Linked DNA regions of Homo sapiens: region 2 is linked to region 1. Evidence: fine-mapped expression QTL. A gene starts in region 1. The other region holds a variant in brackets. All regions are shown on one strand. Distances are from middle to middle.

Region 1 (10,812 bases):
GTCGGTGCCACACAAATTAAAGTAGTAAAGCCAAGTGAATGTTAGAGGTATGACTCAAGAGCTTGTGCTCTTGCCTCACCATAATAATAGCTGTTGATTATTGAAAGCTCTCTATATGCCAGACAATGCACTAAGTCTTCTACACACGTTATTTAAGCCTTACAACAAATTTATAGGGTATTCTCTCCATTTTATAGGTCATAAAAATGAAGCCTAAGGCTGGGGGCCATGCCTCATGTCTGTAATCCCAACACTTTGGGAGGCTGAAGTAGGAGGATGGTTTGAGTCCAGCTGTTTGAGACCAGCCTAGGCAACATAGTGAGACCCTGCCTCTACAAAAAAATTTAAAAAATTAGGCTAGGCATTTTGGCTCATGCCTGTAATCTCAAAACTTTAGGAGGCTGAGGTGGGGGGATCACTTGAGACCAGGGAGGAGTTCGAGACCAGCCTGGGCAACACAGTGAGACCCTGTCTCTACAAAAAAATAAAAAAATTAGCTCGGTATGGTGGTGCACACTTGCGGTCCCAGCTACTCGGGAGGCTGAGATGAGAGGATTGGTTGAGCCTAGGAGGATGAAGCCACAGTGAGCCATGATTACATCACTGCACTCCAGCCTGGGCAACAGAGCAAGAACCTATCTCAAAAAAAAAAAAAATACATAAATAAAATAATTTTTTGTCTTGTTTTTATCATCTTTAGCTAAAAAAAAAAAATTAATAAAAAAAAATTAGCCAGGGGTGGTGGCACACGCCTATGATCCCAGCTATTCAGAAGGCTGAGGTGGGAAGATCGCTTAAGCCCAGGAGGTCAAGGCTGCAGTGGGCCGTGATCACGCCACTGCATTCCAGCCTGGGCAGAGACCCTGTCTCAAAAAAAACAAAAACAAAAACCAAACAAGGCCTAATCAAATCAGGGCTACATGGAATAAATGACTTAACTATATAAGGTACAAAATTATGCTCTCTACACCATGCTATGGACACCTCCCTCAAGGAGTGGATGCTCACAGGCCCTGGGGAGTTAATAGAGAATGTGGCACTTAAAATGAATAGGGCAAGGGATCAGACCATGCACTATCACTGTATCCTGTAAAATGGCAGGTTTACTTTTTTTTATTTTATTTTTTAAAGTGACAGGGTCTCCCTCTGTCAGCCAGGCTGGAGTGAGGTGGTAAAATTATAGCTCACTGTAACCTTAAACTCTTGGGTTCAAGTGATCCTCCTGCCTAAGCCTTCTGGCTGAGGGAGGCTACAAGTATTTGCTACCACACCCAGATAATTTTTTTTTTTTTTTTTTTACTTCTGTAGAGACAGGATCTTGTTATGTTGCCCATGCTGGTCTTGAACTGGCCTCAAGCAATACTCCTGCCTCAGCCTCTCAAAATGCTGGGATTACAGGCATAAGCCACCACCCTCAGTGAACTATTAACCCATTAATAGAGAGGCAGGATGGTAGAAGAAACATGGGAACTGGATTCATACAACTGATTTTGCTTCCCATCTCCTCCACTTACTAGCTGTATGACCTGCACGAGAACACCAACCACCTTCTGTTCTAATACTACTATCTTACAGGGCAGTCACATGGAGAAAACAGCATCATTAAATGAGAAGTTCTTAGCACAAGGTCTAGCACCCTGGAGACCCTTATTATTGAGAAGCTAGACAGCCAAGATGTCAGAGTACAAAAGGAGTCTTTTGGACACTTGACTGATGGAGGTAGACAAAGGGGACTTATAAACTAATCCTGATTGGAGGAAAGGTCACAGTATTCCAGTAGCTAAATACAGGTAAGGAAGGACTACCACTAGGGGTTACCTTGGTTGATCAGCTCCTGTTGAATTTCCTCCAGCACAGCCATGTCTATCAGCTCCTCCAGCTGGAAGAGAAAGGAGCGGCATCAGAAGTTTGAAGTATTAATCACCAACCAAGCCCCACAGTGATTCATACTTGGAGGCTGGCTTGAAGAACCCAGATTTATTGGACAAAATCAGTCCAGTCCTCCTGCAGAATATGCTGACAGTGGGGTAATGCTGTCATGCTGACAAGCCATCAACAAATGATCCAACTATCCAGTGACAAAATAATGGTACCCAATTTTGGAGAGACGATATAGGGTAGCAGTTAGGTACATATTCTTCCAAGGCTACGTAACCACATGAAAAGTTCCTAATCTCTGCAAATCTCAGTTTTGGCCTCTGTAAAGTGGGAATAAAATCTATCTAAGAGGGTTACTGTGAGTACTAGTTGTGGTGATATAAGGCAAACATTGGTGTACTGCAGGACACACAAAAGCCACTGAATAATGCATCATTATTACACAGGGTGTTGATGGTTTCAAACAGTTGCCCACATTTTCTTACACAGTCCTTACAATGCTGAAAACATTATCTTCTCATTTTATAAATGTGAAAACTAAACCTCAAAGAGGCAAACTGAAGTTAACAGTCAATAGCCAAACCAGGATTTGAATTCTGGAACTCCTGACTTCGAATCCAGTGTTCTTCCTGATACACTATAAATGGTTTTCCCTTCCACACATGGCTGCCAACGTTGGCTGAGATTAGAATCGGAAAGTTTCTGGAGACCTTTTTAGAAAGAGATTCCTGACGTGGGCAGATCACTAGAGGTCAGGCGTTCAAGACCAGCCTGGCCAACATGGTGAAACCCCATCCCTGCTAAAACAGAAACAAAATTAGCCGGGCATGGTGGCACACATCTGTAATCCCAGCTACTTGGGAGGCTGAGACAGGAGAATCGTTTGAACCCAGGAGGTGGAGGTTGCAGTGAGCCGAGATCTTGCCACTGCACTCCAGCCTGGGCGACAGAGCAAGACAGAAAAAAAAAAAGAGCGAGAGAGAGGGAGAGAAAGAGATTCCTAGCCTATGCCTACTGAATCATAATTTCCAAGGGTGGAGGCAAGAAATGAAATTTCTTTCTTTTTAGTTTCATAAATGATGATGTTGCAGTGATGAGCAGGTCTACGGTCTGGTATTTCAGACCATTTCATCTAGACAAGTCTAACATTAAGTGTAGAAAAGCCTGGGTTAAAGGCTGTTGAATTCTAAATGGGGTTAGGGGAATGGTGGGTTTAGAGGACTCAAGTAAACAAATAAAAGAGGACACGAGCCGTTCTTGGTGGTGCAGTCCCCCTCCCTGAAAACACATAGCCCAGCCTGACCTGAGCCAAGTCTTCTGGACAATTCTCCACTGACTGCAAAGCATTCCACTCTTCTTCCATCACCTCTTGAACTAGAAAGCTGTTCTGAGAATTCCCTGGCCCACTGCTTCCAGCCTGGCGGTACCTGTTTAGGAGCCTGTCCCGGCTGTTTCTCATTCTCTCCAGGCATCTCTGGGAAAAAAGAGCAAGATTGGGGGGGAAAAAAAAAGCATTTCTATTTTTAAAAAACACTCTTACATTAGTTGAGAAAACATTAAAGAAAGTTTATAGACACAAAATTTCAATGATAATACTAACTAGTGTTACTTTTGCATATTCCTCTGTAGAGATACATAAAATTACAATGCTTTGTACACGTATTTACAAAGAACCATATTTTTTATTCTAGCTTGCCAGTTTCCTTAATGGTTGTGTGCATAATATCTCAGCATCCAATGTCCTATTACAGAACATTTATATTCCTTCCAAATTCTTGCTACTCTAGATATGGCTGGGTAACGGCCTTCCTGCACAGCAGCGTTTCTGAACTCAGGGAGGTTTTGTCCCCCAAGGAACATTTGGCAATGCTTGGAGACATTTCTGGTTGTCACAATTCTAGTTATAGGACTATTAGCATCTAGTGGGTGGAGGCCCGAGACGTGGCTTAAACAACCCTCCACAACATATAAATATCTCCCTCAAAATGTCCATTGTCAAGGCTGAGAAACTCTGCTGTATCTGCTATCTTTCTTGCGTCGGGTTACTTTCTTGGACATTACTTACTAATAACCACACTGTGTTCAGAAGAGGCCAGAACTGAGGTGGAGCCCTCTTCTAAGCCTCATTTTACTACTCTCTAGAATAGAAATCATCTCTATCTCACAAGACGAACGTAGACAAAGTGCCTCTCTCGGTGGCCACCTCCGCAGCAACAGTAGGTAGTGTTATTGCAGAGGTGCAAACGGTGATGTCCTGACCACAATTTAAATTCAAAACAAAATCGAATCCAAAAACAAGGCTTTCTAGGACTTGACCGACCCGGGCTAATCCCACACTCTACAGTCAGCAGGCCTGGGTTTGACCAGACCAGGCGCGCTGCGGCACCTGCTCCACGGAGCAGGGCTAAGGCGAAGGCAGGGAAGACGGCGGTCACCGGGACGATCTAGGGTAGACCACTGCACAAACCCCATACCCACCTGCCGGAAAGCCTCTTTCCAAGGCGGCGAGCCCACCAGTTTGTACAGGGAGCGGCGCGGAGACCTCAACGACTCCGCCATCTCCTCTTCGCGGGAGACAAAGCCACAAGACCCGTTCCCTGGAGGCGCGCACAGACCCCTGGGAGGTGTACTTTCCGGGTGCAGACCGCGAATGGATCGCAGCGTATTCTGGGAAGTGTTGTTTTATCGACCGGCCCCACGTGGAGACAGATTTAGGCATCCAAGCGAAATGCGTGAGGCCAGCCCGACCTGCACTGAGGGAGGTAAGTCTTGAGGGAAAGTTCTGGATGCCTGGGTTTACCCAGATGGAGGTGTCCAATAGGCAATTAGATACACAAGTCTCAGGCTCTCCCCAGGTGCTAGATTTCCAGCAGCACCACCATTATGTTGACTTCTCGTCCCGCCCCCTTGGGCTTCAGAAATAATGGTGATTGGCTTTCCCTTGGTGACGCCCCTGCTTGGTGGGCTGGCCTCGCCTTCGCCCCCCGACCTGGCACGAGCCTCTCGAGCTTCCGGGCCGTCTGCTCGGTGATTGGCCGAAACAGTGAGTGGACGGCCGCGGATTGGCTGTGCTCAGCGGCGGGCTGAGCAACTGGAGTGAGGGGAGCAGTTGGGCCAAGATGGCGGCCGCCGAGGGACCGGTGGGCGACGGCGAGCTGTGGCAGACCTGGCTTCCTAACCACGTCGTGTTCTTGCGGCTCCGGGAGGGACTGAAAAACCAGAGTCCAACCGAAGCTGAGAAACCAGCTTCTTCGTCGTTGCCTTCGTCGCCGCCGCCGCAGTTGCTGACGAGAAACGTGGTCTTTGGCCTCGGCGGAGAGCTTTTCCTGTGGGACGGAGAAGACAGCTCCTTCTTAGTCGTTCGCCTTCGGGGCCCCAGCGGCGGCGGCGAAGAGCCCGCCCTGTCCCAGTACCAGGTAATGCCAGGCCGATCTTGGAAGTGACCCTCACCGGGATCGGAACCAGTCTTTTTTGTTCCTTGCTCCTCTTGGCTGTTTTTCATCTTGTGGCAGGCGTTCCAGCGGATTGACTCCGACGCTGCCATACGCGGTCGCGGGGACTCAGGCTCTCTCGATGCTTACGGCCTGGAGGCCTGGGAGGAAGGAAAGGGTCATTGAATATTCAATAAAAATACTAGTGACGGATGAGTGCTCTGGAGAAAAACAAAGCGGGCTAAAGGGGTTGAGAACGAGTGGGCGGAGTTGCTATTTTTAGTTTCGTCGAGAGAAACCTGTTTCCTGATGTGACGCTTATAATAGGTTAGATCGTAACTTTCTCTTGCGTTGTGCACAGCAAGTCAGGTTGCAGGTTTCAAAGCACCACGCTTCATGCTTGACATGGAGGAGGAAGTCTCTGTTAATTCTTACCCCCGTAACGCCCGCTTTAGAAAATAAAGCCATACCCAAAATGGGGATTTTTGTTTTTGATTAGCCGACAGCATGTGAAAATGGGTGTGATCCAGAAAGTATTACACACTTGCCGTGGTCAAATATTGGTTTATGGAAATGTTTATTTGTAATACACAGATTCTCTTAAAGATGAAAAAGAGCTTGGTACTCATTCTAAGGTATGACATCTGTTGTGTGCCCGGTCCAATTCTTGTTACCGAGAAGTGATTTAATTTTAATAAGACGCTAGCAATGCTTCTGCAGTTTTGAAAATAGGGCAGGAGTCTACAGTCTACTTATTTACCCAATTTCAGTTAAAAAGAATTATGAAGGCCGGGCGCGGTGGCTCACGCCTGCAGTCCCAACACTGGGAGGCAGAGGCAGGTGGATCACCTGAAGTCAGGAATTCGAGACCAGCCTGGCCAACATGGTGAAACCCCGTCTCTACTAAAAATACAAAAATTAGCCAGGTGTAGTGGCGCGCCCTTGTAATCCCAGCTACTCAGGTGCCTGAGGCAGGAGAATCGCTTGAACCTGGGAGGAGGAGGTTGCAGTGAGCTGAGATCACGCCCCTGCACTACAGCCTGGGCAACAGAGCAAGACTGTGTCTCAAAAAATAATAATAATTACCAAATGTGCAGCACGCAGTATTCTAATAACATTCTATACTGCTGTGTAGCATTTGACATAATCATAACTTAATTATTTATAATTATTTTGTGTCTTTTTTTTTTTTTTGAGATGGAGTTTCGCTCTTGTTGCCCAGGCTGGAGTGCAATGGCGCCATCTCGGCTCACCGCAACCTCCACCTTCCAGTTTCAAGCGATTCTTCTGCCTCAGCCCCCCCCGCGAGTAGCTGGGATTACAGGTATCTGCCACCACGCCCGACTAATTTTTGTGTTTTTAGTAGAGACGGGGTTTCGCCATGTTGGCCAGGCTGGTCTTGAACTCCTGACCTCGTGATCTGCTGGCTTTGGCCTCCCAAAGTGTTGGGATTACAGGCGTGAGCCACTGCGCCCGGCTGTTTTTGTTTTGTTTTGTTTTGAGGCAGGATCTCGCTCTGTTGCCCAGGCTGGAGTGCAGTGGTGCAATCTCAGCTAACTGCAACCTCCACCTCATGGATTCAAGCGATTCTCCTGCCTCAGCCTCTTGAGTAGTTGGGATTACAGGCCCACTCCACCGTACCCGGCTACTTTTTGTATTTTTAGTGGAGACGGGGTTTCACCATGTTAACCAGGCTGATCTGGAACTCCTGGCCTCAGGTGATCCACCCGTCTTGGCCTCCCAAAGTGCTGGCATTTCAGCCGTGAGCCATGGCACTCTGCCTCTGTCTTCTTTTCTAGACTGTAAGCTCCAAGGCAGGGGCTGGGTCTGCCCTTGTCATTTTTTAAAAACGTATTTTATTTTTTATTTTTGAAATGGGGTCTTTCTCTGTTGCCCAGGCTGGAGTGCAGTGGTGTGATCACGGCTCATTGGAGCCTCTACTGTCAGGGGTCGAGTGATCCTCCCACCTCAGCGCCTGGAAGTAGCTGGGACTACAGGCATGTGCCACCACGCCTGGCTATTTACTTATTTTTGTATGTCCAGCATACAGAAATGCTGGAGTGCCCAGAATTTATAAGCTTTCAGTAAATATTGGTGACTATCTCAATAACCTTCACTCCTCCAAAATCTCAAAACCTTAGAGATGGGGAAGAAAGCAGCTTATCATGAGTTGTAACTTTGGATGTTAAAAGCAAGCATGAGTAAGCTGGGTGTGGTAGCTGTAGCCTATAATCAGCACTTTAGGAGGCCAAGGTGGAGGCAGGTGGATCTTGTGAGCACGGGAACAGGTGTTCAGACCAGCCTGGGCAACATGACGAAACCCCCATCTCTACAAAAAAAACCTTTTTAATTAGCTGGGAGTGATGGTGCACACCTGTAGTCCCAGCTCCTCTGGAAGCTGAGGTGGGGAGGACACTTGAACCCCCATAGTAAAGTCTGCAGTGGGCTGCCACTGCACTCCAGCCTGGGTGACAGCAAGACTCTGTCTCAAAAAAAAAAAAAAAAATTTGTGAGTTAATGGTACAAGTGTGAGTACTTATCCAGAGTTTTATTATCCTATAATTGTAGTAAACTAAGTATTACTGTGATTTCAAGTAACTGCCACCTATATTTAAATTAAAATTAACTATGTTGACTGGTTTGCTCTAATTTTCAGAGATTGCTTTGCATAAATCCACCCCTGTTTGAAATCTATCAAGTCTTGTTAAGCCCAACACAACATCATGTAGCACTTATAGGAATAAAAGGACTTATGGTATTAGAATTACCTAAAAGATGGGGGAAGAATTCTGAATTTGAAGGTGGAAAATCAACAGTGAATTGTAGGTAAGTTGTATACTATTTATCTGTATAATTTATTATATATACAGAAAATTGTTCAAGACTAGTGGTTCTTAAGCATGTTTAGTATACTACTCTTAAAACATTAAAACACTCCTCGTGGTCTGCAGACTGGCTTCTGTGTTATCAATGTTCATAGTATATGTGTAATTGATTGTACTTTATTCTGCCTGAAGTACCACGTTGCTGTCTCATTTGAGGCTAGGCCATTCTTTCGATTAGGTAGAAGTAAGATTTTGTAAAACCAGTTATCTGTCAGCCAGAAGTTTGCCAGAAGTGTAAGTATTTTATGTGTGTGTGTGTGTGTGTATGTGTGTATATATATATATACTTTTTTTTTTTTTTTTTTTTTTGAGATGGAGTCTTGCTCTGTCACCCAGGCTGGAGTGCAGTGGCACAATCTCGGCTCACTGCAAGCTCCGCCTCCTGGATTCAAGCGATTCTTCTGCCTCAGCCTCCCGAGTAACTGGGATTACAGGCAAGCGCTACCATGCCCAGCTAATTTTTGTATTTTTAGTAGAGACGGGGTTTCACCATGTTGACCAAGCTGGTCTTGAACTCCTGACCTCAAGTGATCCACCCACCTTAGCCTCCCAAAGTGCCGGGGTTATAGGTGTGAGCCACCGCACCTGGCCTATTTTTATATAATTTCTTTTTCAACAAATCCAGAAAAGTGAATCTGAAAGATCTACTGAAAAGAGTACAGATGCTTTTCAACTTACGATTGGGTTATGTCCCGATAAACCCAGTGTAAGTTGAAAATGGATTTATTGCTGACAACACAGCAGAGGATCCCCGATTTAGGATGGTTCAACGTAGGATTTTTCAACATTATGATGGGTAACCCCATCATAAGTCGTAAGGAGCTCCTCAGTTTATGTTGGCTTATGTACTGGTAAACCCATTGTAAAGTTGGGGATCATCTGTATAAGGTAGAAACTGCTTTTAGCTCCGCAACTTATAAGTTGAGTCCCCTTAAACTGTTTACCTTCTAAATCTGTTTCCTCATTTTAAAAATAGGATTGATAATATCTGCCCTTGTAATTTCCTTACAGGGTTAGTAAAAAGATCAAATGAGATACTATATCTGAAAACACTTGTACTGTATAAATATGTATCAATCCTAAGTCAAACCATCCTAAAATGTATATATACGTATGAAATATGCTATAATTTGGAGCCAGGCACGATGGCTCACACCTGTAATCCCAGCACTTTGGGAGGCCGAGGCAGGTGGATCACCTGAGCTCAGGAGCTTGAGACCACCCTGGGCAACATGGTGAAACCTCATTTCTACTAAAATACAAAAAATAAGTGGGGTGTGGTGGCACACGCCTGTAGTCCCAGCTACTCAGGAGGTTAAGGCACAAGTATTGATTAAATCCAGGAGGCGGAGGTTGCAGTGAGCAAAGATCACGCCACTGCACTCCAGCTTGGGCCACAGAGTGAGACTTCATCTCAAATAAATAAACAAATAAAATTTAAATAAATAATTTAAATTATTAAAATAAATAAATTATTTATTTATTTTGAGACAGAGTCTGGCTCTGTAGCCCAAGCTGGAGTGCAGTGGCGTGATCTCAGCTCACTGCAACCTCCTCAGCCCGGGCTGGAGTGCAGTGGCACAAGCTCAGCTCACTGCAGCCTCCACCTCCTGGGTTCCAGCGATTCTTCTGCCTCAGCCTCACGGGTAACGGGTTACAGGCATGTGCCACCACACTTGCCTAATTCTTGTATTTTTAGTGGAGACGGGGTTTTACCATGTTGGCCAGGCTGGTCTCAAACTCCTGACCTCAGGTGATCCACCTGCCTTGGCCTCCCAAAGTGCTAAGATAGGCGTGAGCCATTGCGCCCAGCCAGTGTGCTATAATTTAGAAGATATTTTTATTTCAATTCTTTGATATTGATTGAATAGATGCCTTGAATGTCCTCTCAGCATGATTTCAGGGAAATAAATCTGAAGGAAAGAGAATCAAAGAGTGTTAAAATAGAAATTTCTTCAGGGCCTGGCGTGGTGGCTCATGCCTGTAATCCCAGCACTTTGCGAGGCCGAGGTGGGCAGATCACCTGAGGTCGGGAGTTTGAGACCAGCCTGACCAACATGGAGAAACCCCCTCTCTACTGAAAATACAAAGTTCGCTGGGCGAGGTGGCAGGTGCCTGTAATCCCAGCTACTTGAAAGACTGAGGCAGGAGAATCACTTGAACCTGGGAGGCGGAGGTTGCAGTGAGCCGAGATTGTGCCGTTACACTCCAGCCTGGGCAACAAGAGAGAAACTCCATCTGCAAAAAAAAGAAGTTCCTTTAGAAGATTTTCATCCAAGTTGTACAAAATGTTTTGGAAAATTATTATCTTTATTTTAGTACCACTCCAGTTGCGGAGAGATTTTTCACCAGTTCCACCTCTCTGACTCTAAAGCATGCTGCATGGTATCCAAGTGAAATCCTGGATCCCCACGTAGTGCTGTTAACATCAGACAACGTAATCAGGTAAATTTTATTTCTCTCTCTTGAAGCCTTGCGAGTGGGAAAGCTCTGTTTCTGTTTGCCAATTAACAGCTCAACATAGAACGAAGTGAGTCATTGAATGAGTCAGTGCTTTTATTGGATGGCTGTTGTAACCCATTCTCAATCATAAGAATTGCCTAACTGCTCTAACTTAC
Region 2 (10,812 bases), 400 kb before region 1:
ACTAAGCTTATATTCATGGCAAGGGCTCAGCTGAGGGTCAGAGTCACGGTGCCAGGAACCCTGATTAAAAACCTAGCACCTCTGAAGTTCTCTCAGCCAAGAAGGAAGTCAGTTCATGTGAGGGAGCTCAGGTGCTCATTTCTCAGAAGCTACATGTGCTGTGTCTCCCAGGTAACTGCAGACTAAGGAAAACTGCATCATAATCACTTAGAGATGTTTGTTTCAAAGGCAGATGCTGCAGCCCCGCCCAATAACCATGAACCTGGGAAGCTGAAATTCAATGAGTTTCCCAGCGATTCTGATGCACTCTAAATTTGAGACCCTCTGCTTCAGCTCCCCCAAAGCTTTCCTTCCAAGGAGCTCTCCAAGGCGGCATTCCTTACAGCCTCAGGGCATCTATGTGCAATCCCAAGCCCCTTTCCCACTTTAGATTTGGGGCTGTGGCAGATGCAGCGGTTCCCTCCCTGCCACCTGCCAGCACAAGGCTGAGCAATGTAGATATGCCTCAGAAGTCATCTATGTCCTCCTTTGGTGATAGTGACGGTGGCACCTTAGGATTTGACTATGTGCACCCCTGGCTGGCTTCTCCCCATCACAGACAGCAGATCCTACGTGATAGTAATAGCAATCATAAATAATAGCAACTCACATTTATGTGACACTTACTATGCCAGTAATACATGAGCATACAGTAATACATAAGCTACATGTATTAGCTCAACTAATCCCCACAACAACCTCTGAGGTAGGTACTATCATTGTTCCCTTTTCACAGATGAGGAAACTGAGGCCCAGAGAGGTGAAGAAACCTGACTAGGGCCACAAGGCTAAAGAGAGGCAGAGCCCAGACTGATCCCGGAGCATGCCCTCTTATCCGTGATGCTCTAGGCCATGGCAGATAATCCATGGTATTGTTCCCCCAAAATGTGACTATTTCTTAAAACAGGCATTATAATAAGTACTGTCCCCACTAACTCCAGCTGTTCTCCCTCAATGCTTAATCAAACTCTAAATGTATCTTATCTTTGTAAAAGGGAAACCGTGCCTTTTCCTCACCTGAATTTCTCAGAGATATGGGAAAACTTCAGGCCTTGCATCTAATTTCTGGATGTAGACAGAGATGCTTGCTTTCTCTCTTGCCTCTTCTCCTGCATCTCTGATACCTGCCTCAAGAACCCGCTCCCTGCATAGCCTTTTCCAACAGCAGGACCAGGAAAGGAATTCAAGACAGAATCCATGCTCCCCAGGCCTGGCCCTCAAGCCTCTCCTACAGCACAGGCATGAAAGGGGCTCCTCGTCAGATCTGGCATCTTACGACCATGACAAGCCTCTGCAGAAACGGCTTCCTAAAGTAACATTGCTCCGAGTTCAAGTCCAGCCTGGCCAACATAATGAAACCCTGTCTCTACTAAAAATACAAAAAATTAGCCAGGTGTGGTGGCAGGTGCCTGTAGTCCCAGCTACTCGGGAGGCTGAGGCAGAATGGTGTGAACCCGGGAGGCGGAGCTTGCAGTGAGCCGAGACCACACCACTGCACCCCACCCTGAGTGACAGAGTGAGACTCCATCTCAAAAAAAAAAGAAAAGAAAAAGAAACATTGCTCCTTTTCCTCTGTATCATTGGAGACATTGGACATAATTGGGGTAAACAGGGGCTTCCCTCTGAACCTAGGCCACCCAATGGGAAACTGACAGTTCCCTTATAAGGGTCACGCTTAGCCACTTGGAATTTGGCTTTTTGCCCTCTGGTTGGTGATTTTAAGACATGAAAGAAAATGCCATTTATTTCACTGTTAAATATGCATTTTAAAGCAAAGTTATATATATACATAATTTAAAAATTCAGGCTGGGCACAGTAACTAATGCCTGTAATCCCAGTGCTTTTGGAGGCTGAGGTAGAAGCATCACTTGAGGCTAGGAGTTTGAGACCAGCCTGGGAAATATAGTGAGACCCTGTGTCTACCCAGAAAAAAAAAAAAAAAATTAGCCAGGTGTGGTGATGCATGCCTGTGGTCCCATCCACACAGGAGGCTGAGGTGGGAAGATTGCTTGAACCCAGGAGTTTGAGGCTGCAGTGAGCTATGATCATGCCACCTCACTCCAGCCTGGGTGACAGAGAGAGACCTTGTCTCAAAAAAAAAAAAAGTCAAAGGCTGTAGAAGGGCTTATGATGACAAGCAACCCCATCTCCTCCCCACCCCCAGGTGATACATAGTTTCCAGTGACAGGGAAGTGCTGGGAAGGGAAGAGCACGGTCCCTTTAAATAATACGGAAGTGGGGAAGGGAAGTGCTGCGTAGAGGAGGGCGTGGTCCCTGGCTAGGGCTCCACCCTCACAGACCTAGGTAAGGACAGGCATTTCCTGCCCAAATGTTGCATTTCCCAAGACCATCCTGGCCTACCACGCCCCCATCCTGGGCCTATAAAAACCTGAGACCCAGGTGGGCACGTGGTGGCTCATGCCTGTAATCCCAGCACTTTGGGAGGTCGAGGCGGGAAGATCACCTGAAGTGGGGAGTTCAAGACCAGCCTGACCAGGCTGAAGCAGGAGAATTGCTTGAACCTGGGAGGTGGAGATTGAGGTGAACCGAGATCGCACCATTGCACTCCAGCCTGGGCAACAAAAGCAAAACTCCACCTCAAAAAAAAAAAAAAAAACCTAAGACCCTATCGGGCAGACAGGCAGACGTTGAGAGGAGCACATGGGTGGAAGAGACAAGCAGCTGGATGTCCTTGAGAGGACATGGAGAGGAGCACACCAGTGGAAGAACACACGGTCAGGCACCAGCACCCTGGCCGGCCATTGACCAGCAAAACAATGCGGAGCTGGGATGGAGCAGTCCGAGAAGAGTGGGGCGTCCACCTGGCCCGACTCCAGGGGAAAACCATCTCCCTTCTGGCTCCTTCATCTGCTGAGAGCTACTTCCTCTCAATAAAACCTTGCACTCATTCTCCAAGCCCACGTGTGATCCGATGCTTGTGGTATACCAAGGCAAGAAACTGTGGGATACAGAAATCTCTCTGTCCTTGTGATAAAGCAGGGGCTCTAATTGAGTTGGTTAACACAAGCCGCCTATAGACGGCAAACTAAAAGAGCACCCTGTAACACACGCCCACTGGGGCTTCAGCTGTGAACACTCACCCCTAGACACTACCATGGGGTCAGAGCCCCCACAGCCTGCCTGTCTGTATGCTCCCCTAGAATTTCAGCAGTGAGGCACTGAAGAGGTGAGCCACACCCCCAATGCACACCCTGCGACGGGGACAGGGGAACCTTGCCCGTTTGACCAGGACTCAGGAAATGCTTGTTGATTGACACCTTAATATTTCTACTTATCAGCTCAGAACCTAATGATGTAGAAGTGGAGCTTTTCCTCTTTCATTTTATTCAACATCACTTGTGAAATGTGGGGTTTATGCTGGGTGGAGGAATAAGACAAAGATGAATTAAACATGGTCTTCCCACCTTGAAATCATCTTTGTCTAGCGGCCGGAGGGCTGGGCATTGGGCATTAAAACGGATATTTATAACGCCAGAAAGAAGGACATAACTGGCAAAATACAAGTACCAGTGAGTATTTTGGGAATCCAGTGAAAGCTCCCAGGGGCTTAGGATGGGAGGAGTTGGGTGGGGCATGGGCCGCTGGGCACCAACATTTCAGCCAAACCTTGAAGAATGGTAGGGAAGACATGAGCCAGTTCTTGTAAGTGGAAAATTTCTGGAATGCTGGGGGAAAGCATGCTGGAGTCCAGACCAGAGAGGGCCAGAAACTCTATGACCTTCATCCTCCATCCCCTGGGGAGCCGTATTTCAAAGGGCCTAGATTTCCTCATCTATTAGATGGGAAAAATAATACCAGCCAGATTACATGAGTTAACACACATAGAGTACTTGCCACAGTGTCTGGAAAATAATCAACTCAATAGATCTTAGCTAAGAACCCTAATTCCTTCCTGCATCCCCCACCCCACCTACCACAGACATTCCTGACTGCAGTCCCTTTTCCCCCCAAGTTCAAAACAGCAGACTGTCTCACCAAGATCCTCACCTGAGCTAAAGGAGGTGCTTGTTACCGGAAGGCACTGGCATCTGAGAACAGGCAGGGCCTGTGCTCCAGGAAGTCTCTTTCCAGGGGTGTCTGGTGCATGTCTGCTCAGGAACCCCTACCTGCAGGACTGCCTCCCCAGTGACAACTAGTTCGGGGCTTCTAAAGCAGATGCACAGGTCTGAACCCATGAGGTGGTGTCTGCACAGATAAGTATTCCCTCTGCGCAGCTTCCATGAAGGCTGGTTGGAAGAGTGATTTTTTTGCAAGTGGTATGTTAGCTTCATGGAGTTGCTGCCTTTAGTCTTTGTCTTCTTATTAGAACTACTGGTTTGACCTCAACCCAAAGCTCCAGGTATGAGTCAGACTGTGTACCCTGCCCCTCCCCAGCATGGCATAGGGAGAGAGAGAATGACTCGTAGGTCTGGCAGGTCCCTAAAAGTGACCTCGTCTGATCAATGAGGCGATGACTGACTAACCTCCCTCCTAGGAGACTGTCTAGTATCTGCTAGCATACCTCCAGCGATGGGGGTCTCACCACCACTCCAACCCCATCATTCCATAGGTGAATAGCTCAGACTGAGACAAATCTTTTATGTTGAGCCGAAATCTATCCATCTGGGGAAGGGTTAATGAGACAATCGCTAGGCCCTCCTTGTCAGCCCTCCCGATTCCTGCTTCCCCCACTCCCCCACTCTGCCTAGAAGCATTAATTCCATTATCAAACGGTCAGCCCTGGGGAATGAACTTTTAAAGGCTTAAAGCAAGGTAGGTTAATTAAAATCTTTGATCAAAGTCCCATAAACAGCATAAAACTCCTCTCTCTTAATTATCCTGGATGGTCTTACAAGCATTAAAGCCAAAGGGGAGAAGATGAAGAGGCAGGGAGGCGAGGAGCTGGGAGGAGAATATTCCAGAAAGCAACAGCCCCAGGCCGAGGCCACCAGATTGCTGCTGCCATCAGGGCCCCACACTGGGCAATCCAGGGGAAGCCAAGAAACCTACCCTTGCTTAGCTAACATTTACCCACAAAGCACTTCCTAGATCAGTTGCTCTGCCAGATGCCAGGAGTAGTGGAAGAAATACCCAGATCCTCCCCTGAGAAGGGGCCAGGGTCCTCTGGGAGAGACCCCAAGAAGAGCAGGCAGGCGGGAGGAGACTGCATAGCGGGAGTTCCTGGCCCAGCCCGGGAGGGTCAAGGAAGGCCTCCAGACGAGGCGGCCTGGAGCTGGGACTGTGTGCTGGAGTCAGTGATCTAAGTGTCAGGCAGAGTGGAGCAGCCTGGAGGTGAGGAGGTGCTGGGTAGGAGTGGGAGGAGGGCTGTCGAGTAGGCAGTGGTAAGAGATAGAGAGGGGAGCAGGGTGGGGGCACGGAGCACATGGTGTTGAGGACAGTTTCCAGAGGCAGTGGGGATCACCGAGCTGTTTGAGTATCTCTCCAGTCTCATCTCTCACCACTGCCTAATAGAAAGGCCAGTCTACATCGTAGGGAGAATGGGTGGGCATGGGGAGAGCGAGCCGGGGGAAGGAAGCCCAGGTTGCTGACATTGTCCAGGTGAGAGAAGGTACTGCCCAATCTCAGGTAATGGCAGGAGAGGGGGTGAGGGGGGAGAAGTAGATGGATTCGAGAGATGTTTG[G/C]GACAAGTCAGCAGAATCCAGGTGATGGCCAGGCTTCCTTCTGAGGTGTCTGGGTGGGCGATGGCCCTCACTGAGAAGGAGAGTAGGTTGAGGGCTGGAGGTTTAGTTTTGGACACTTTGGGTGTGATGGGCCAGTGATCAACTCACATTCCCACCTCTCCCACCCACCCACCCTCAACTAAAACCCTTGATGACTACCCACATCTCTCAGGAAGAAGTCCAGAATGCTCAGGAGGGCTCTCTGGGCCCCACTGGACCTGGCCCAGGGCTCTCCCTGCAGGCTTACACTGCGCCTTCCCTTCCTGGCCAGCTTCTCTCCAGCCATAAGGACACTTGGTCTGATCTATAAGTGCCCCAGGCAGCTTTCTACCTCAGGGCCTTTGCACATTCTCTTCCCTGGGACTGGAATGCTCCTTCTCTCCGTCTCTCCCTCCACTCATTCTTCAGGCCTCACTTTTATCATCTGACTCACAAGGAAGGCTTCTCTGACTTCACCCCATCAAGGACCAGAGAGCTGGTTAAAAGTACAGACTCCCTAGCCCCACTCCACTCTATGCCCAGATTCTGATTCAGCAGCTCCTGATGGGGGCCTAGGATTCTGCATTTTAGCAAGCCTCCCAGGTGGTTCCAAAGCCATAATCCACAAACGAAGATCTGAGAAGCCCTGCACTGCAACGTCCTGCCTCCCCTGGCAGGAAACCTCAGCCACTGCGTAGCTCAGAGGGCAGCCATGGAGCCTCAGCTGCACCCTCCACTCTCCATATTCTCCATTCCATTTGACATACATGTCAATCATTAACATGATATGATGTTGATTGTAAAAATACTTTTAGATGTGAGAAACTCATGCTTTTGTAGACTTATGTAAAATATTAATAAGAGCATCCTTAGAAAACTCTGCTATTTTTATTGATCGGTATTAACACACAATCCAAATAAAATCAACATCCTTTCTCTGGAATTACAACTTCAAAGGACTACTCTGGCCCTCACCTCCTAATCAGATGGTTCTCCTTCCACCTCTGTGTATAGAAATTCTGACATGATGATGTTGAAATTTCCCTAAGCCCTGTGTTTTGCAAAAACAGTGATGGTTAAGAAGTACCCACATCCCTTCTGTGTTTGGGAAAACAGCTCACTGCAAAGAACCACCCTCCCCCATATGACTTAGATAAGACTAGCGAATGACCACCTTGTTAACCCGGGACAAGGCCAGACACGGACTTTCTAAATTCCCATTCTTTTTCTCATAAATGGTTGGCTGAATTGTTTGTCCTCCTGAAGCCAGCTAGACAGAGAGAAACATTTTCTGTTCAGCTGATTGATGAAGACTCTCTGAATACAAAAACAATCCTAACTGTAATATCACCCTACCTATAACTTGGCTATTCCTCCCTCTAAACGTCTATAAACCACCCTGAAGACACACTCTCATCTTCGGATCTCGGGTGCGCTCCATATTACATAAATAAAATCCATTTCCCTATGTGTTTGGTTTTGTCTTTGACAGGCACCACCACAGTTGGTATCTATATTTTGAGAAGATGGCTGACTGCCAAAATCAGAACAGGGAACAGGGACAAGGTCCCATGATGACCTCCAATTGGACCACTGGTTATTGCCTAGAGATGGGGGTTTCTGTGTCCAGGGGTCAAGGGCTATGTGAGCCTTTCTCTGAGTTCAGCAGTGAAGGGATGATGGGGCAGGTTGGGGAAGGCAAGGCATGGCACAGCAGGGGATCATGGGAGGAAAGGGTTCCGCAGACCCAAAGAAGCAGGGGCCAAGGGTCCAGACCTCCCTCTAGGCAGGTCCATTTCTAAGCACCCTGCAGCCAGGGCAGAGGCTGTGTGGCTGCTTCCTCTGGCAGTCACAGACAAATGGGAAATCAAAGCTTTCCTGAATCGCCACCATCCTATCTCAAATCCTGTATTGTGTCTGGCCATAGGAGTCTGCAGCCACCAAGAGAAGGTTCTGAATGAACGATACTCACTCTTCCCTGTCTTTGCTCAGGCTGCTTCCTCCACCTCAAATAAGCCTGCCCCTTCTCTTCAGGTCCTGCCCACTCTTGTAGGACTGATTCAAACACCTCCTCCTCCAGGAAGCCCTCCTGGCTGTTTCCCCATCTGAAATCTGAAATCTGGGGACTGTTCCTCCTCCAGTCCTCAGTTCTCCAATAGCACTGCAGTCTAGCCTTTACCAACATCTGCTGAGTCCCGTGAGGCAGCATTGCAGAGTGGGAAACCAGCAGGTCTTGGAACCAGAATGTGGGTTCAAATCTCCACTTAACTTCTAGGTGCCCTGTGGCCTTGAGCAAGTTGCTCAATTCCCACTGAGCCTCTGTTTTCTTGTCTGTAAAATGGGGATGACAAGCCATACAGGACCACCTGGGGATCTTGTTTGGCTAGGCATTCAGATTCAGGGGCCTGGGATGAGCCTGATTGTCTTTCTAAGAAGGTCTCAGGCAAAGCTGCAGCTACTGGTCCAGGGCCACACTTCCAGTAGCAAGACATCTTACATCCAGTTCCTGTGAGGAACACAGAGAGTGCTTTAAAAGGCCAAGCTCATATTAGCAGCTAAATAAGTGGGAGGCTTTATTAATACTATTATCATCTCCATCACCTGTGCCTGACATGCAGCTGGTGCTGGAAATAATGGTAGCTAGTTATCTCCCCTGCTACCTGCAAGTGTCTGGAGGGCAGGAAACGTGCCTAATTCCTCCATCAAAATGCCTTGCGCGTAGAAAGCTAAAAACCACGCTGCTGTGAAGGAAACAGCAAAGTCGCTTCTATCAGTCTTTGCAAAGGGGTCTGTCCTGTGTTCTGTGCATGACCGAGGAGAGACGCTGCCCACCGTCTGCCACACCCCAACCACTCTGTCCTGTAGGCCGAGTGCCAGCTTCCCCCAAAGCCTCCATCCTCAGAAGCCAGTTTCTCACGGAAAATGAGCTCCCTGCCTCCGCGCATCTGTACACTGAGGAAAACAGTTGGCTTCATAACCTTGAGGGGGAAAAAAGACAAATAAAGGAGTCTCCAGAGATTTATCAGAGACCACAGGAAGCTGTAAAACATATGTTGCAGCATATTGATCTTTGACAAACTCCAGCAACAGAGGAAGTCCTTTCCCGCCTACACTGCCTAATGAGGACCTAGGGGCAGAGTCCTCCTCCCCTCTCCCCCTAGCAGGGTTCCATCTGTGAGCCTCCATCTCAGGCCTGTCAAGCCGGCTGGAGATGAATCCACACCCAGCTGAGAGCCCCTTCTGCCTCCAAGGCCCTGAGATGCAGGTGCGAAGCCCATGCGCCAGCATTCCCAGCCCTCAGTGGCACAGCCCAGTTTGTTCCCCGGGTGCTTTGGAGCCCTGCCTTCAAGAGCCATGAGGTTACTTAGGTCCATTGCCCCAGAAATGGGTAGGGCAGTTGCAGCTTGGAACAAGTACTTCTCTACCCTGGTTACCCATTTGAATCCCTTCGGGAGCCTTAAAAATATATGGATGCCTGGAACCCACTGTCAGGAATTCTGAATTCTGGGGTGCTGCCTGAGCATCAGGGTTTTTAAAAGCTCTCCAAGTGATTCTAATGAGCACCCCACAGTGCAAACCCAGGAATAAGTGTATTGCTCATATTTTACTTTCAAAATGGAGCTTTTAAAGACCTCCCTGTAACAATAGTCAAAGTATTTTTTATTTGCAAGAGAAAGAGTTTTCTTTGCAAATGCCATCAAAACAAAAAAACAAAACAAAGCCAAAGCCTCTAAAGCCAAGATCACAGAGTTGAGAGGATGCTAAACAGGAGGCGAGAGCAGTTTTTCCACTCAAAAACAAATCAAATTCTCTTAGAAGAAGAGAGAAATTTGGCCGAGCACAGTGGCTCACGCCTGTAATCCCAGCACTTTGGGAGGCCGAGGTGGGTGGATTGCTTGAGGTCAGGAGTTCAAGACCAGCCTGGCCAACATGGTGAAACCCCATCTCTCCTAAAAATACAAAAATTAGCTGGACGTGGTGGCGTGCACCTGTAGTCCCAGCTACTCAGGAGGCTGAGAAAGGAGGATCACTTGAACCCAGGAGGCAGAGTTTGCAGTGAGCCGAGATCACGCCACTACTCCAGCCTGGGCAACAGAGTGAGACTCCATCTCAAAAAAAAAGGAAGAGAGAAATTTGAAAGATCAAGCAAGGTGGCCATAGATTTTTCCTTGGCCCCCAGAAAAGGCTGGGAGCAGAGTGTCTTTTGTCTGCTTCCCACCCAGAACCCTGGCAGCCACTGAGAGGAATGAGGGGTGATATCAAGAGAGTACAAGTGGTAGCTGAGAAGGGGGTGTGGAGGAACCCTCTTCCTGAGTTGTTCTCACCTCCTGTGTGGTTCAGAGACCCGGCCGGGCTGGACTCTAAAGACTGTTATTGCAGTCCAACCTCCCAGGCCTCTGCAGCTCCTATTCCAGCCAGGGTGGGGTCTGGACAGCAGGGAACACTACTAGCAGCAGCAGCAGCAGCAGCAGACACAGCCGGTGCAGAGGCTGCCCCCAAGGACCAAGGTGCCAAAGAGTAGTATCGAGACCAAAGGAATGGGAGTGGGTGCAGGAGGTGAGACCGTGTCACCTGGAAGTGACTGAGCAAGAAGTTACTTTGAATAAAAAATTGGCTTGTTTCTGCTGAGTGGAAATGGTAGAAATTCAGGACCAAGCTAAGCTTGGTTATAAAAAAAAAATGAAGAAAGTTACATTTCTGCTGCACATCTGAGTGTAACTATAAATCTTAAATCCACTGTGAGGTCCATTCAGAAATGAAGAAATATACACGGCCAATGAATAGGAAGAGATGCTCAGCCTCAGCAGTAATCCAAGAAACACAAATCAAAACACTGGCAATGCACCATTTGGGCCTCTCGGCTGGGAGGCATTTTAAAATCTAATACCTGTATCAGCAAAGGTAAAGAAGCCAGGTTCTGACAAATTGATGGTGAAATGCACGTTATCTTTCTGAGGGACAACTGGGTAATAAGAATTAAAAGAATTCTAAGTATACTTTTGGTGTAGCAATTCTAGGAATTGATCCTGAGGAAATAATCAAGAATCACAGAAAACTTTGGGAGCTTTAAAAATATACAGATGCCTGGAACCCGCCGTCAGGAATTCTGAA

The links.
Region 2: its variant is fine-mapped to the expression of RPAIN in lymphoblastoid cells (GTEx, PIP 0.97).

Annotation. Positions count from the first base shown.
Region 1 is chr17:5,413,836-5,424,647 of GRCh38, reverse strand. It overlaps RPAIN (RPA interacting protein), which reads right to left and starts at 4,466. Exons shown (of 7, transcript NM_001033002.4): 1 at 4,357-4,466; 2 at 3,182-3,352; 3 at 1,819-1,879. The coding sequence starts at 4,437. It overlaps NUP88 (nucleoporin 88), which reads left to right and starts at 4,986. Exons shown (of 17, transcript NM_002532.6): 1 at 4,986-5,294; 2 at 7,966-8,135; 3 at 10,514-10,639. The coding sequence starts at 4,998. RefSeq lists enhancers at 4,195-4,414, 4,425-4,544, 4,274-4,811, 4,812-5,349, 4,985-5,624 and 1 more.
Region 2 is chr17:5,814,884-5,825,695 of GRCh38, reverse strand. The region is part of intron 1 of LOC339166 (a long non-coding RNA gene); the gene reads right to left. Among named protein-coding and RNA genes, the nearest start is that of NLRP1, 240 kb to the right of the region's middle. The variant G/C (reference allele first, on the strand shown) is at 5,683.